Regions from separate parts of the Homo sapiens genome. Here all the other regions are reported to be linked to region 2. Evidence: microRNA targets listed by miRTarBase, many of them from high-throughput screens and not tested one by one. Region 2 holds a microRNA gene; each other region holds the end of a gene's coding sequence. Distances are between the middles of the regions.
What was found. Region 2 holds the annotated microRNA hsa-miR-31-5p (AGGCAAGAUGCUGGCAUAGCU, at 1,705-1,725, opposite strand). A microRNA usually pairs through its seed, bases 2 to 8, with sites in the 3' UTR of a target mRNA and lowers its output. Matches are read on the target gene's strand: a 7mer-m8 pairs with bases 2 to 8, a 7mer-A1 pairs with bases 2 to 7 and ends in A, and an 8mer does both.

Region 1 (3,156 bases), not on the chromosome of region 2:
GGAGGCCTTGGCACGGGTTCTGGAGGACAGACAGCAATTCTATGAGTGCTCACTGAGATACTTGCTGGAGACCTCAGAAAACACAAGTGCCTTCTCCACGGTGCAATTCAGACTTCAGTGATCTCCAGTGGTCAAAAGACATTTACCCTTAATATCAGACAACATTTATATTTTAGTGAAGAAACAAGTTCTCGGGTGGGGAATCTATGTTTCACTCAGATTTATATGTTTGGAGGAAAAAAGCCTTTTTTTGTAAAATATTTAAATTTATATAAGAAAATGTTAGAAAAAAATATGGGGAGTGTATATAAAACTTGCTTTATTGCATGGGGCAGGGGAAGTCCAGGCCTAATACTCCTAAAGTAAGAGTTGGGTCCTTTTTTTCTTCAATACAACTGTGCTGTACCTTGTAAAGTATTTTATCTGCTGCTTATTTGTGGAATGAAACCTCAAACAAACCCAAAGGGGGAGGGTAGGGCAGGGCAGGCAGATTGGAAATCTGCCTGCAGATTCTATTAAATACACCCTTTTGCCAACCACAATTGGCTACTGACATGTTCATTTTGTTATAGGAGACTTTAAAACAAATCATGGCAACCACATCCCTCTTCTTTTGTCTCCTTCTCAAGGAAAAACAATCTGGAATGTAGAACTTTTAAAGACTTGAGTTTCACCTTTAGAGGTACCCTGTCCAAGAGGTTTTTTTAAAATCATGGAGTGCAACTACTTTGCAGAATTTATGATTCTCTTTTGCTCTTAGTACCCAGGTGGTTTTATAGAAATGATTATTGTATCTTTAAAGTGCTTACACAGAAAATATATTGGGGGAAAATCTAGTGACTAAAGGCACATAAGATAATAAAACTAGACTTTAAAAAGGTAACTCAAAAGTGAATAAAATCTCTAATATTTGTTCCTTTTTTAATTAGCCCTTCATTTAAAAAATATGGATACCAATCTTCTGAATTGAGATGATTTTCTATACATTTTCTTTCTTTTTTTTTTGAGACAGAGTTTCGCTCAGTCACCCAGGCTGGAGTGCAGTGGCACGATCTCGGCTCACTGCAACCTCTGCCTCCCAGGTTCAGGTGATTCTTCTGCCTCAGCCTCCCGAGGAGCTGGGACTACAGGTGTGCACCACCACACCCGACTGATTTTTGTATTTTTAGTAGAGATGGGGTTTCACCATGTTGGCCAGGCTGGTCTTGAACTCCTGACTTCAAGTGATCTGCCCACCTCAACCTCCCAAAGTGCTGGGATTAGAGGTGTGGGCCACTGTGCCTGGCCTCTTTTTTTTTTTTGAGAGACAGTCTCGTGCTGTCACCCATGCTGGGGTGCAGTGGTATGATCTTGGCTCACTGCAACCTCTGCCTTCCGGGTTCAAGCTTGATTCTCCTGCCTCAGCCCCCCAAGTAGGTGGGATTACAGGTGTCTGCCACCACACCCTGCTAATTTTTGTATTTTTAGTAGAGTTAGGGTTTCACCATGTTGCCCAGGCTGGTCTTGAACTACTGACCACAAGTGATCTGCCTGCCTCAGCCTCCCAAAGTGTTGGGATTACAGGCATGAGCCACCGTGCCTCAGCCTATACATTTACTAATAGTAGCAAGTTGTGTGGTTGGGGGTGGGTAGAAAGGTGTTCTAAAGTGCAGGTTTGTTCTAGAACTCCATCCCAGCTAAAACCAACACACTGTGTGGCCCAGCTCTTGAAGCTCAGAAAACCCCTCTTCCTCTCCACTCAAGATCACCCAGCCTGTGCCCCACCTGGGCTCATGGAACCTCACTTCTGAGATGCCCTGGTCTACTTTATGGAGTTCTTATTGTTCAAAACTGACCTTGCCTATTTTGTGGCACAACAAATACGTCTGTAACATTTTGTCTTCCTAGTCTTTCCAAGTGAAATTGCTCCATTTCTTCATAAGATGAGAGTAGTCTGTTCTTTATCACTGAACTTTCTTCACTGAGTCTTGGAATATGGATTTTACCTTAAAACCACAGACATTCTTCCTTTCTGAGCTGAATGCTCCATTTCTCTAAATGTAGGCAAATATTAAGGAAGTTTATTTTGTCACTCACAGTTTAAATTTATATTTTTACATCATCCTTCAAACAAGATTACCTAGAAACTTCTTTATCTTAAGCTATTAGTACTCATAGTCATTAACAAAGTGGGCTAACTTAAAAACTCATACTTAATGCCGGCCGCAGTGGCTCATGCCTGTAATCCCAGCACTTAACTTTGGGAGGCTGAGGTGGGAGGATCACCTGAGGTCAGGAGTTTGAGACCAGCTTGGCCAGCATCGTGAAACCACATCTCTACTAAAAATACAAAAATTAGCCGGGCGTGGTGGCAGGTGCCTGTAATCCCAGCTACTCAGGAAGCTGAGGCAGGAGAATTGCTTGAACCCGGTAAGCGGAGGTTGCAGTGAGCCAATATCGCGCCACTGCACTCCGGCCTGGGCAACAAAGCAAGACTCCGTCTCAAAACAAAAAAACAAAAACCTCATTATAGATGAAGTAAGGACTATTTTCTTTCTTCAAGTTTTTTTCCTTAATAATTAGCTTTGGTTATTGTAGACACCAGATGATCAAATCAAGCTTTCTCCATGGTCAGTGCCATCAGAGCCTGTGACATGTTCAAGACCTCTTTTTGGCATCTGAACTGACACAATATATACATAATAAAATTAAATAAGAAATTATGTTAAGACACATCTATTTATTTATAATCAATCCACTGTGTATAAAGGAATACTATCAGAAGGCAAGTATAAGTCTTAAGTGCTACCAACACTTATGTTGGTACACTTTGTATATCACACTTTGATACAACACTTTGTATCGGAATACAGAGAAAGAAGAACACATCCCACAGTGCATAAATAACCATATTTAACACCTCTCAAAGACTTTGTATAGATCAGGCAGGTTAGCAAGCTGCAGGATATTTCCATCTTCTGTGAAATGTTTAGGAGGCAGAATGTGTGAGCGCAAGGCTTTATAGACAATGTGTTCCACAGTCCACTTCCAGGAGTTTGGAATGGAGCCAGGCACTTCACTCTGGAAAACACATTAGATGTCATAAGCCTCCCTGTTTGCATCCCAACATACACTGGTGTCCTGGCTGATGGGATGTGCACTGGGTCTGGAAAGACT
Region 2 (3,130 bases):
ATTTTCAGCTAAAGCTGTTTTGTGAGTTCTTAAAAGCCTTCATAGGCAAGATCAGCTTGTACAATGATGTCTTTAAACAAATTATCCTTATATAAAGAGATGCTTATAAAAGTTGTAGACTAAAACTACCTCACTTTTGTGCTACACATTTTTGTTAAATTAGCAGCTTAGTTTAATATACTCCAAGAGGCATGAAATGAAGGTATAATGTGATCTTTCTGTATGTTTTAATACCCTGAGTAATAATAAATAATGACAATCGAGAATAGTGACTGCTACTTTATTTCTTGGAAAAGCATTAAAATTAACATGAAATTTTATTTATTAAAAGCAAAGCTTTTTATTAAAACTTCAATGCTTAAAAACATGAAACATCAAACAGTATTTATTAAACATTAGTATTTATTAAACATTAAAATACAATTGTATTTACTGAACATTCTTACTCTTTAAAGTGAATGTGTAAAAACCACTTTTAAAAGAGATCTACAGATAATGAGTAACTCCAGAAACAAAGGAAGATGAGGAATGTGAACTAACCAGGAGAAGAACTTGAGATCCTTGACAATTAACTCCTTGGTCTCTCAAGATTTCTATCTTTACAAAGAATTCTACATGTACTATCGTTCTGGCATAGAATTTCCACACATTTCACATAAAATCCCTTGTCTCTAACTAAAGAAAACTTTTTTCTTAGTAGTGAAATAAATGTGTTGAGTGTCTACTGGTATGCATATATCAAGAATTTTAGAGACACTAAATTTTTAGACATGTGATAAGAATCATCTGACTAAAATACCTTATTTCCTTATCTTGAGGGTCCTATGGAGTCACTATTATTACTCTAATTTTACATTTGTGTAAACTGTGGCTCAGAGGTTAAATGACTTAAGAACGCACCAGTAATGAGATTTGACCATAAGTTTTACTTTGAAGCTCATGCTTTTCCCAATAAAATATGCTGACTTCCACAAGTCTATGGATCCAATGACACATTTACTGTGACTGCTTTAAAGAGTTAGGTTTGCAGGCCCAGAACTCAACATTATCTGTTTATTTCTTTATTATTAGTTTTGTGCCAGGGATTTCACCAAAGACATTTATAATGCAAAAACTATAATTATTTGATATCTCTTTTGCATCAGGGTAGAGTTTCAAAAATATGTATTGAGAACCTACTATGTGTCACACTCTAAGGATACAGTGGTTATCCCTAACAAGGTCCCTAACCCTCAAGAAGCTTACATGGTAGTGCGGGAGAAAAGACACTAAGCAAGTAAACAAATACGTTTCAGGGAGCACCAATGTTTCTGAAAAAGCAGAGTAATGGGATAAAGGGTGACTGAAGTGCTGGAGTATTTTAGATAGCATGGTCACAGAAGGCTTCTCTGAGGAGATGATATCCTCGCTGAGGCCCAAATGATGAGAGAAAGGTAGGCAAGCTAAGAGGCAAGAACATCCTAGGTGTGTCCAAGGAATAGCCATACAGGCCAATGTGGCTAGCATGGAGTGAATTCATGGTAGGACACAATACATAGCAGGACAGGAAGTAAGGAAGGTGAGAAAGGCCATGTCATGGAAATCCACATCCAAGGAAGGGCGCACATACACAGCAATACACGAAGGACTGGCATGCAGGTGGCCATGGCTGCTGTCAGACAGGAAAGATGGCAATATGTTGGCATAGCAGGTTCCCAGTTCAACAGCTATGCCAGCATCTTGCCTCCTCTCCAGTTCCAAGTTACAGGAGAATACTATGACTCTTCAGTGTTTTACTTTTCCAAAATTTTTCCTTTCACCTGAGGGAGGGAAAACACACTCATTAATTGAAAGCGCACTTATTTCTGATCATAACAACATAGTCTTCCTTAGAGTGTCCGCTTTTGAAGATGTAGTTAGGCACAGGAGGTTTGTGGGTAGTTCCATTTTTTTAATGGTCTTTGATCTAAAATGAACCTCGAGAATGTTTATGGACTACTTGTGAAACCACAGGGATGAAATTGTGACAAAAATTTTATTAAATCAATAATGTCTAAAGTTGATGACAGTTAATTATAGGCTATTACCACCATATTTATAGTCCACAAAATATCCCAGTGACTCTCAGTACAATTTTATTTTTACTCTAATAACTTTACTTGGTCAATTTCTGCCACTCAGATGTATTTAAACAATAACAAACTGTGGCTCAGCAGTGTGTAGTTAGTTCACTGCTTTATGTGCTCTTAAAAATAATGTTATTTTTGGATTTTTTTAAAGACATTCTTGCTCTGTCATCCAGGATACAGTGCAGTGGTGCGACCATAGCTCACTGCAGCCTCAATCTCCCAGGCTCAGGTGAATCCTCCCACCCTAGCCTCTCAAGCAACTGGGACTACAGGTGTGTGCCATCACTCTTTTTTTTTTTTTTTGTATTTTTAGTAGAGACAAGGTCTCGCTATGTTGCCCAGGCTGGTCTCAAACCCTTAAACTCAAGCCATACTCCTGCCTCCACTTCCCAAAGTGTTTGGATTACAGGCATGAGCCACCATGCCCTGCCAAAAATAATGCTCTTTTGAGCCAAAAATTCCCAGCTAGAAACTTATTTCACAAGTACATTTGCAAAAGTACCACTAAGTTCTAGGTCCAAGGATGTTCACTGCAACACTGTTTTTAATAGTAAAAGATTGGAGACAACTTGAACACTCATCAGTATGATTGATACAGGCTAAATAAATAATATAGTTATACAACAGAATATTTGGTGGTCCTTACAAAACAGTAAGGCATAAGAATAATGACATTATGTATAACTTTTGTGCAAGTGAAAATGTATACACAGACACATACCTGGAGGGCATACATACATGTTTTTTATTAAAGGATAAATGAGCAATTTATTATTTTAAATAAAAAAATTGGATAGGATTATAAATTATGTTTGCTTTCCTCTTTAATATGTCTCTATTAAAAAACTAGTAAGTAATACGTATTATTTACCCAAAATGGAGTGTAAGGTAACCTATAAAGGTAAAACATTTTGTTATATAGTGCTACCAAGGTATAGATAAGGAAGAAGCATACTCTTTTAAATATGATTCTAGTATCAATTGCCTTTGCCAGAAACAAAAGTCCAGCATTACCTAAGCCT
Region 3 (3,000 bases), not on the chromosome of region 2:
TGTCCACAGGTTAACATCTTACAGCTTCCTCAAATTCAACTTTAGCTCCTCCCACAAAACCATCTCCTGATTCCCCAACTTTGTAAATGCACCATTATCCATCCAGCCCCCAAAGCCAGAAACATGTTAGAATTCTCCATTTGAGACTGAAAAGCCCACCTAATTTTCCCTTGTTTATGCTGGGATGCCATTGGGATTTGAAATAATCTGAGCTGGTGGCTCATATCTGTAATCCCAGTACTTTAGGAGAACAAGGCAGGGGGATCACTTGAGGCCAGGAATCGAGACCAGCCTGGGACCCCGAAAAAACATTTTAATTGGCTGGACGTGCCTGGCATGCACCAGATTCTCTGGAGGTTGTGGGCAGGGGATTGTCTGAGCCTAGAAGTTCAAAGGTGCAGTGAGCTATGATCACACCACTGCACTACAGGCTGGGCAACAGAAACCCTGTCTCAAATGAGTAAATTTTAAAATTTCCTGTGAATCAAGTTCTTCAGTGACGTTGTATTACACTCAAGAACAATCTTAAGCCTAAGATCCTCAGTTCAGTACAGGAGACCTCTCATGTGGCATTTTAGTTTTCTGGACTTTCCAGTCAGCCACTTGTGTTCCTAAAATCTTCCTGCCATTTCCTCTTTGAGATGCCGCCCTATTTCTTCCTCTACACTTTACGGTTTTATGTTACGCAGCCAGTATACCTACATGCCTCTATCCCTGAATACCCCGAGTACTACTGATCACATCTACTTAACTGGCACAATGAACACAGTAGGTACTTTTAGCTTATGTTGGCCTTTTGGAGTGGGTGTCCAAGATCAGCACTTCCTCGCGCTGACTGCGTAATTCCCAAGTTCAATTTCATTAGCATTCTAATATACAACTTCCAACTTCCGGCCTTGAAGTACTGCTCACTTCTGGTGAATACAGCATCAGTGCACTTTGTTTGCCTTAAAACCACAATCCTGGGAGGCTGAGACAGAATGGCGTGAACCCGGGAGGCGGAGCGTGCAGTGAGCCAAGATTGCGCCACTGCACTCCAGCCTAGACGACAGAGCAAGACTGTCTCAAAAAAAAAAAAAAAAAAACCACCACAATCCTAATAAATGAGCCTGGCAGAGTACTAACACAAGCCCATGTCCACGAAGCACGGGACTCCAACAATGGCAGCTTTGGCTTGCATACCACCATTGGACTGACCAAACCTTTCTTAGAACTGCCAGTGTGACAGAGGGACCTCTGGGGGAGGGCGTCTTGCTTTCTCTTGGGTCAGTATATCTCACTACCCTCTTTGTAGGTTAGCAGATTTGTAACAGGATGTTACTGGAGGAAGGGGAAGTGGGAAAGCTGGACAGTATTCCCACTCTTTTCCCTTACTACAAAAACTTTCCTTCTCAGTCCTGTCTCCAGGAGATGGAAGACCAAATAACACAACAGCCAGTGTGCTTTTCCTACCCAATCCTTTCTTTCACCCTCTTATCCTAATACATTTCCAGCATGTTAATTCTTTTGCAGCATAGACAAGAGAACCCATACACGCTGCAAAACTGCAAAAGGGCTTAGGTGGCAAACTCCCAGTTTCTTGTTGACATTTTCAGTGCAATTTAAAGATGTTAATTTAAAAAACTACCTGTGCTGTAGAGATCAGTAACCCTCAGGGGGCAGACAAAAAGACTGTTACTGCATCAGTTAGAAATGTAGTACTACCTGGGCAACATAGTGAGGCCCATCTCCACAAATAACTAAAAAGTTAACTGGTTGTGGCTGCACATGCCTGTGGCCCCAGCTATTTAGGAGGCTGAGGCAGGAGGTTTGCCTGAGCCGAGGAGGTTGAGGTTGAGGTTGCAGTAAGCTGTAATCACGCCACTGCACTCCAGCCCAAGCAACAAAACAAGACCTTGTCTTCAAAAAAAAAAAAAAAACCATACAGCAAAACTGATGCCTTAGTTGTTTTATTTTAGCATATCCCCAAGAAATCTAAAATATTTAGGAGGCCTGCTTAAAGTGCAATCTTGAACTTTACCAGATTAAAACATGAAGCCAAAGAAAGCTGCCACCTTTCCGTGCACTATTCCCAACCTCCATGTACCTACCATAGGATTGCTTTTTATGAGTGGAGTAATATGGCTTAATTTTATTTTAATATACTGGAATGCTTTGTCCAGTCACAAGTCCCAAGAGCTTCTCATCCCAGTCTATCCAAATGAACTGCCAAAGCCCATCAACATAATCTCCATTCAAATTTTAAGTTTCCCAATCTGCATTGAACAAATGCATAGTATCACAAAGCACTTGGCAGGTGTGGTGGCTCATAACTGTATCCCAGCACTTCAGGAGAGGCCAAGGAAGGAGGATTGCTTGAGCCCAGGAGTTTGAAGCCAGCATAGGCAAGAGTCAGACCCTCTCTACAAAAAATTTAAAAATGACCCAGGGATGGTGGCATGAGCCTGTGGTCCCAGCTACTTCAAAGGCCAAGGGAGGATTGCTTGAGCCTTTGAATGTGAGGCTGCAGCGAGCACCACTACACTCCAGCATGGGCAACAGAGCAAGACTCTGTCAAAGATACTCGCATTAAAACCCGTTCCCTTCTAAATCTCTGTACTCGCCCTGTAATTTTCATCACATGTCTCTCTGACCCCCTTGTACTCCAAAAATGCTGAGCAACCTCTATCATTTTAAGCATGTAGCAAATCAATTTAAGGTAGTAAGTTTTTTAATCCACTTAAAAATACAAGAGCACAAATCCACATTTATTTATTGATTTTTCGTTAGTTTAAATCCTTGAGGGGTACAGCATCTGCAGGGAAAAAAGAACACAAAACATTAGGTGAATGTTATATATACGTCTACAAATCAAGAACCGTAATACGGATAAATCTCTGAAAGGCTACCAATTACATGTTCTAGTGGTAAGGAAAGTTTTTATAGCCTTCAGTCTCTACGTGAACATACCGTAAGAACCGGCACTCATAAAAAACATGTACTGGCCAGGTGCTGTGGCTC
Region 4 (3,162 bases), 21 Mb from region 2:
TCATCGGCGTCATTGGCGGGCAGGACAGTGGGGCGGGTAAGGGGCCTCCCCGCGCCTCCCGGCCCTTCGCGCTCGGCGCCAGCTCTTTGGCTCCCTTCCCTGCGCAGCTCTAGGCTTAGCTCTCAGCCATTTCTCAAGAAGACGATCCCGAGGGTCGAAGGCCGCCCTTGACCCTTGACCACGGACTCTCCGTGTAACTCGGAAGAGCCGTGATTTTAAAACCCGGCCTCGGGGTTACAGAAGCCCGAGATCTGGGAGGCGTCCGGGACCTCCCTCCCAGAACCGCAGGGACCCGGCCTGGGATCCAGGGTGTGGCCTCTCGCTCTGCGCGGTCGGGAAGGCGGCCGGGTCCGGTCACCGCGCCAAGCACTGCGCACCCCTGGGACGCGTCGTTGCGGGGGGCTGGGGGGCTGGGGCGCCTCCACGACGCCTGGTCTGCCCGGCCAGTGCTTGGTGTCGTTGGTGGGTTCGTGGCTGCGACGGGTAAACGTCCGTTCCGCGAGCCGGGCAAGGCAACCCCTGCGGGTCGCGCCCGAAGGCCGGACCCCTCCAAGCCGCCTGGGAGCTTCCAAACAGGTGGACCCGAAGCTCCTGTTTGATCGGAGAATAACGTTCAATTTACTCCGCCGCTGAACTGATGGTTTAAATATTCATCTTTGGATATGGTTTCACATTAGGCAAAAGTTAGGAGCTTGGAGGCGGTTCCGGGAAGGGGCCTGACCCTCAGTCACCCACGTTCGTAGCCGGGTGATCTGCCCTCGGGCAAGAGAAGGAAGATGATTGGGAGGGTGCCAAGAAAGCCTGGAGAAAGTCCCTTCTGGGTTCAGCGGCTGTAGCCGCTCTCCCAGGACGTTTGTTGGCAATAAATGAAGGAAGGTCGGCCCGGAGACGTTTTCGCACAACGGACAGAGGGGAGTTGGAGCGTAAACCAGCGAGAAGCTGGCATGACATAGGATCCCTCTATTCTCAGTTTGTTTCCAAACTCTTAGACTGCCCCAGCCCTGCCGGATTTGCTAAAAGTGGTCTCTTCTGGACGCCGGTGGGGCTATGGGGCTGACGGCTGCCTGTGCAAAGAAGAGGGAAGAATTGGAAGCTGGGGTCTGGGCAGCTACCAAAGATGGGGCTTGGGAACTTTTCAGAACGTCCTCAGAACCGCAGGAGCCAAGAGGAAATCTCCCGTAGGGGATCTCAGGTAGGGCATGCCAAGAAATTCCAAGAGACGGGATGGAGAAGAGAAGCCGGAGAAAAATCGGCCAATTAGACTCCTGTAAAAATGTGTCTCCATGTTTGTCCTCCCTCCTGAAATAAGAAATTCATAGCTGGGGGTGGGGAGTAGATGGGGGCTGGGGGAAAAACTTTCTCACATTCACAGAGCAGCTTCCCTCAAAGCGGCACGGAATCGGGAACCCCACTCGGGACAGGGGAAAACGGCCAAGTTCCTAGAAATTTGTTTTCTTTGTGGGGAGCAATTCATGATGGGCGTTCTTGTCTGGTTTCCCCCCACTCCGTCCCCTGACGCCGAGTAACACTTAAACCTTTCTAGTTGCAAAGTCTTTTCAGAGTTTTTTTTTTAGGAAATAAGTTTTGAAAATTCTAGTGCTTAAAAAATGTGTATATATATATATATATATATATATATATATATATATATATATATATATATATATGTATATTTATAGCCTTTTATTTTCCCTGAGTACATGTTGGCCACTACATTCCAAATTGATCTCAAATGGTTTTCCAGCTTGTTGGGGGGTGAGGAAAAATAAATGGAGAATATATTTACATGCCCTCCTATTCATTCTTTTAGAAGTCTCATAAATAGTAAATTTCCTATTTTAAAAGCCAGGACATTTTCAACCTCAAATATTTGGAATTTTTAAAGGCCATATTAAAATGGATTACTTCTGCTATCTATAATAAATATGAATTGTGAAAATAAATTGAGGGAAAATAATGTAGGTTTTAAAAAGTTCCATTTAGAAAGGGAAGAATGAGACGTAATAGAAAATAAACGATGTAGTGTAGTGACTTAGCATTTTATTTCGTCTATATAACTAGGCTTAATTTTAACACCTTAATTTTAACATTAAAGATGGCACGTCAGACACACAGATAAGAAATCAATGTTCTGAAATTAATATCCTACTTACATTAAACATCCCTATCAGGAAGACACAGAGAGTAGAAGCATTTTGCACTAGACTTAGGAATAATACTTCCAGTTCCAAGGAAGTGAAGAAGGGGGAACATGTTTGGCATCGGAGGCTGTGTTTTTGTTTGCTTGCTTGTTTTTCTTTTAATGCCAGAACAAAATACCCCACTCACGTTCATAGTACCCCAGGACATGTGCAAATCGGGAAAGCCACAGAAGCCACAACCGAAGGCAAGAAAAGATGACTTGACGCCCTGCGAAGGTTACGTTCAGGTGGTTTTTAGAGGAACGTAATCCAGCTGTTTCTTTCTAACCATTTTGCAGGGAACAGAAGTTCGTGTTTGCTCTCCAGCGGGATTCAGATGCACACGCCCAGTATGGGCCGCGCAAGGTGGAGTGAGCAGCTGCGGGTCGCTCCCCACTCCCACCTGGCTCTAGGAGGGCCCTGCGGACTCGGCCAGGGAACTGGGCGTGGGCGATACTAAAAAAACTGGTGAGGTCCCCTCTCCGCCCAAAGGGGCGGCCAGCGATGTCAGCCCAGAGCCCTCTGCCACCGCCTGATACCGCAGCAGCGCCGACGCGGCCGACAGGTGCCCGCCCAGCACCGCGCCCTTGGTGGGAGCGCAGCCGTTGGCGCAGTCCTCCTCCTGATGCCGCTGCTGTTGCTGCAAAATTGTCCGACAGGCTTGACGGTCGCTGGAGCAGGGGGCAGTAGCTCCACGCGGTCGGGGACAAACTCTGCGCAGCCCCTGTACCCGCTCCCCTGACCCCTTGCATGATACTCTCAATGCTGAAAGAGATGCATCCGCCTCCCGGTGGCGACGCCAGACCCTTGCCCTCCTCCCAAGGCTGAGGACCAAGTGAGGGCTGCAGCACGGGAAGGGTGCCGGGGTCGCCAGGTCCGCGCCTTCTGCTTTCTTCGGTGCCCCGGCATAGGCGGGGGCCGAGAGCAGTAGGTAGCGAGGAGGATGCGGGTGCAGCAGAGCGTAAGGGCGTCTCCCGGGGCC

Region 1: miRTarBase lists MLH1 as a target of hsa-miR-31-5p. The part of its 3' UTR that is shown has no 7-base or 8-base seed match.
Region 3: miRTarBase lists RPL35A as a target of hsa-miR-31-5p. Seed matches in the 3' UTR shown: 7mer-m8 at 2,384-2,390.
Region 4: the mRNA of FOXD4 is a reported target of hsa-miR-31-5p. Seed matches in the 3' UTR shown: 7mer-m8 at 2,386-2,392.

What each region holds. Positions count from the first base shown.
Region 1 is chr3:37,050,390-37,053,545 of GRCh38, reverse strand. It overlaps MLH1 (mutL homolog 1), which reads right to left. Exons shown (of 19, transcript NM_000249.4): 19 at 2,700-3,060. The coding sequence ends at 2,893. It overlaps LRRFIP2 (LRR binding FLII interacting protein 2), which reads left to right. Exons shown (of 28, transcript NM_006309.4): 28 at 1-920. Among named protein-coding and RNA genes, the nearest start is that of MLH1, 58 kb to the right of the region's middle.
Region 2 is chr9:21,510,454-21,513,583 of GRCh38, forward strand. MIR31 (microRNA 31) reads right to left here and starts at 1,732; the gene lies at 1,662-1,732. All of the region lies in intron 1 of MIR31HG (MIR31 host gene), which reads right to left.
Region 3 is chr3:197,955,544-197,958,543 of GRCh38, reverse strand. It overlaps RPL35A (ribosomal protein L35a), which reads right to left. Exons shown (of 5, transcript NM_000996.4): 5 at 1,934-2,794. The coding sequence ends at 2,771. The region is part of intron 2 of DRC9 (dynein regulatory complex subunit 9); the gene reads left to right. Among named protein-coding and RNA genes, the nearest start is that of DRC9, 2.9 kb to the left of the region's middle.
Region 4 is chr9:114,211-117,372 of GRCh38, forward strand. FOXD4 (forkhead box D4) reads right to left here. Exons shown (of 1, transcript NM_207305.5): 1 at 2,021-3,162. The coding sequence ends at 2,590. Among named protein-coding and RNA genes, the nearest start is that of LINC01388, 2.0 kb to the left of the region's middle. RefSeq lists enhancers at 337-943, 2,715-3,162.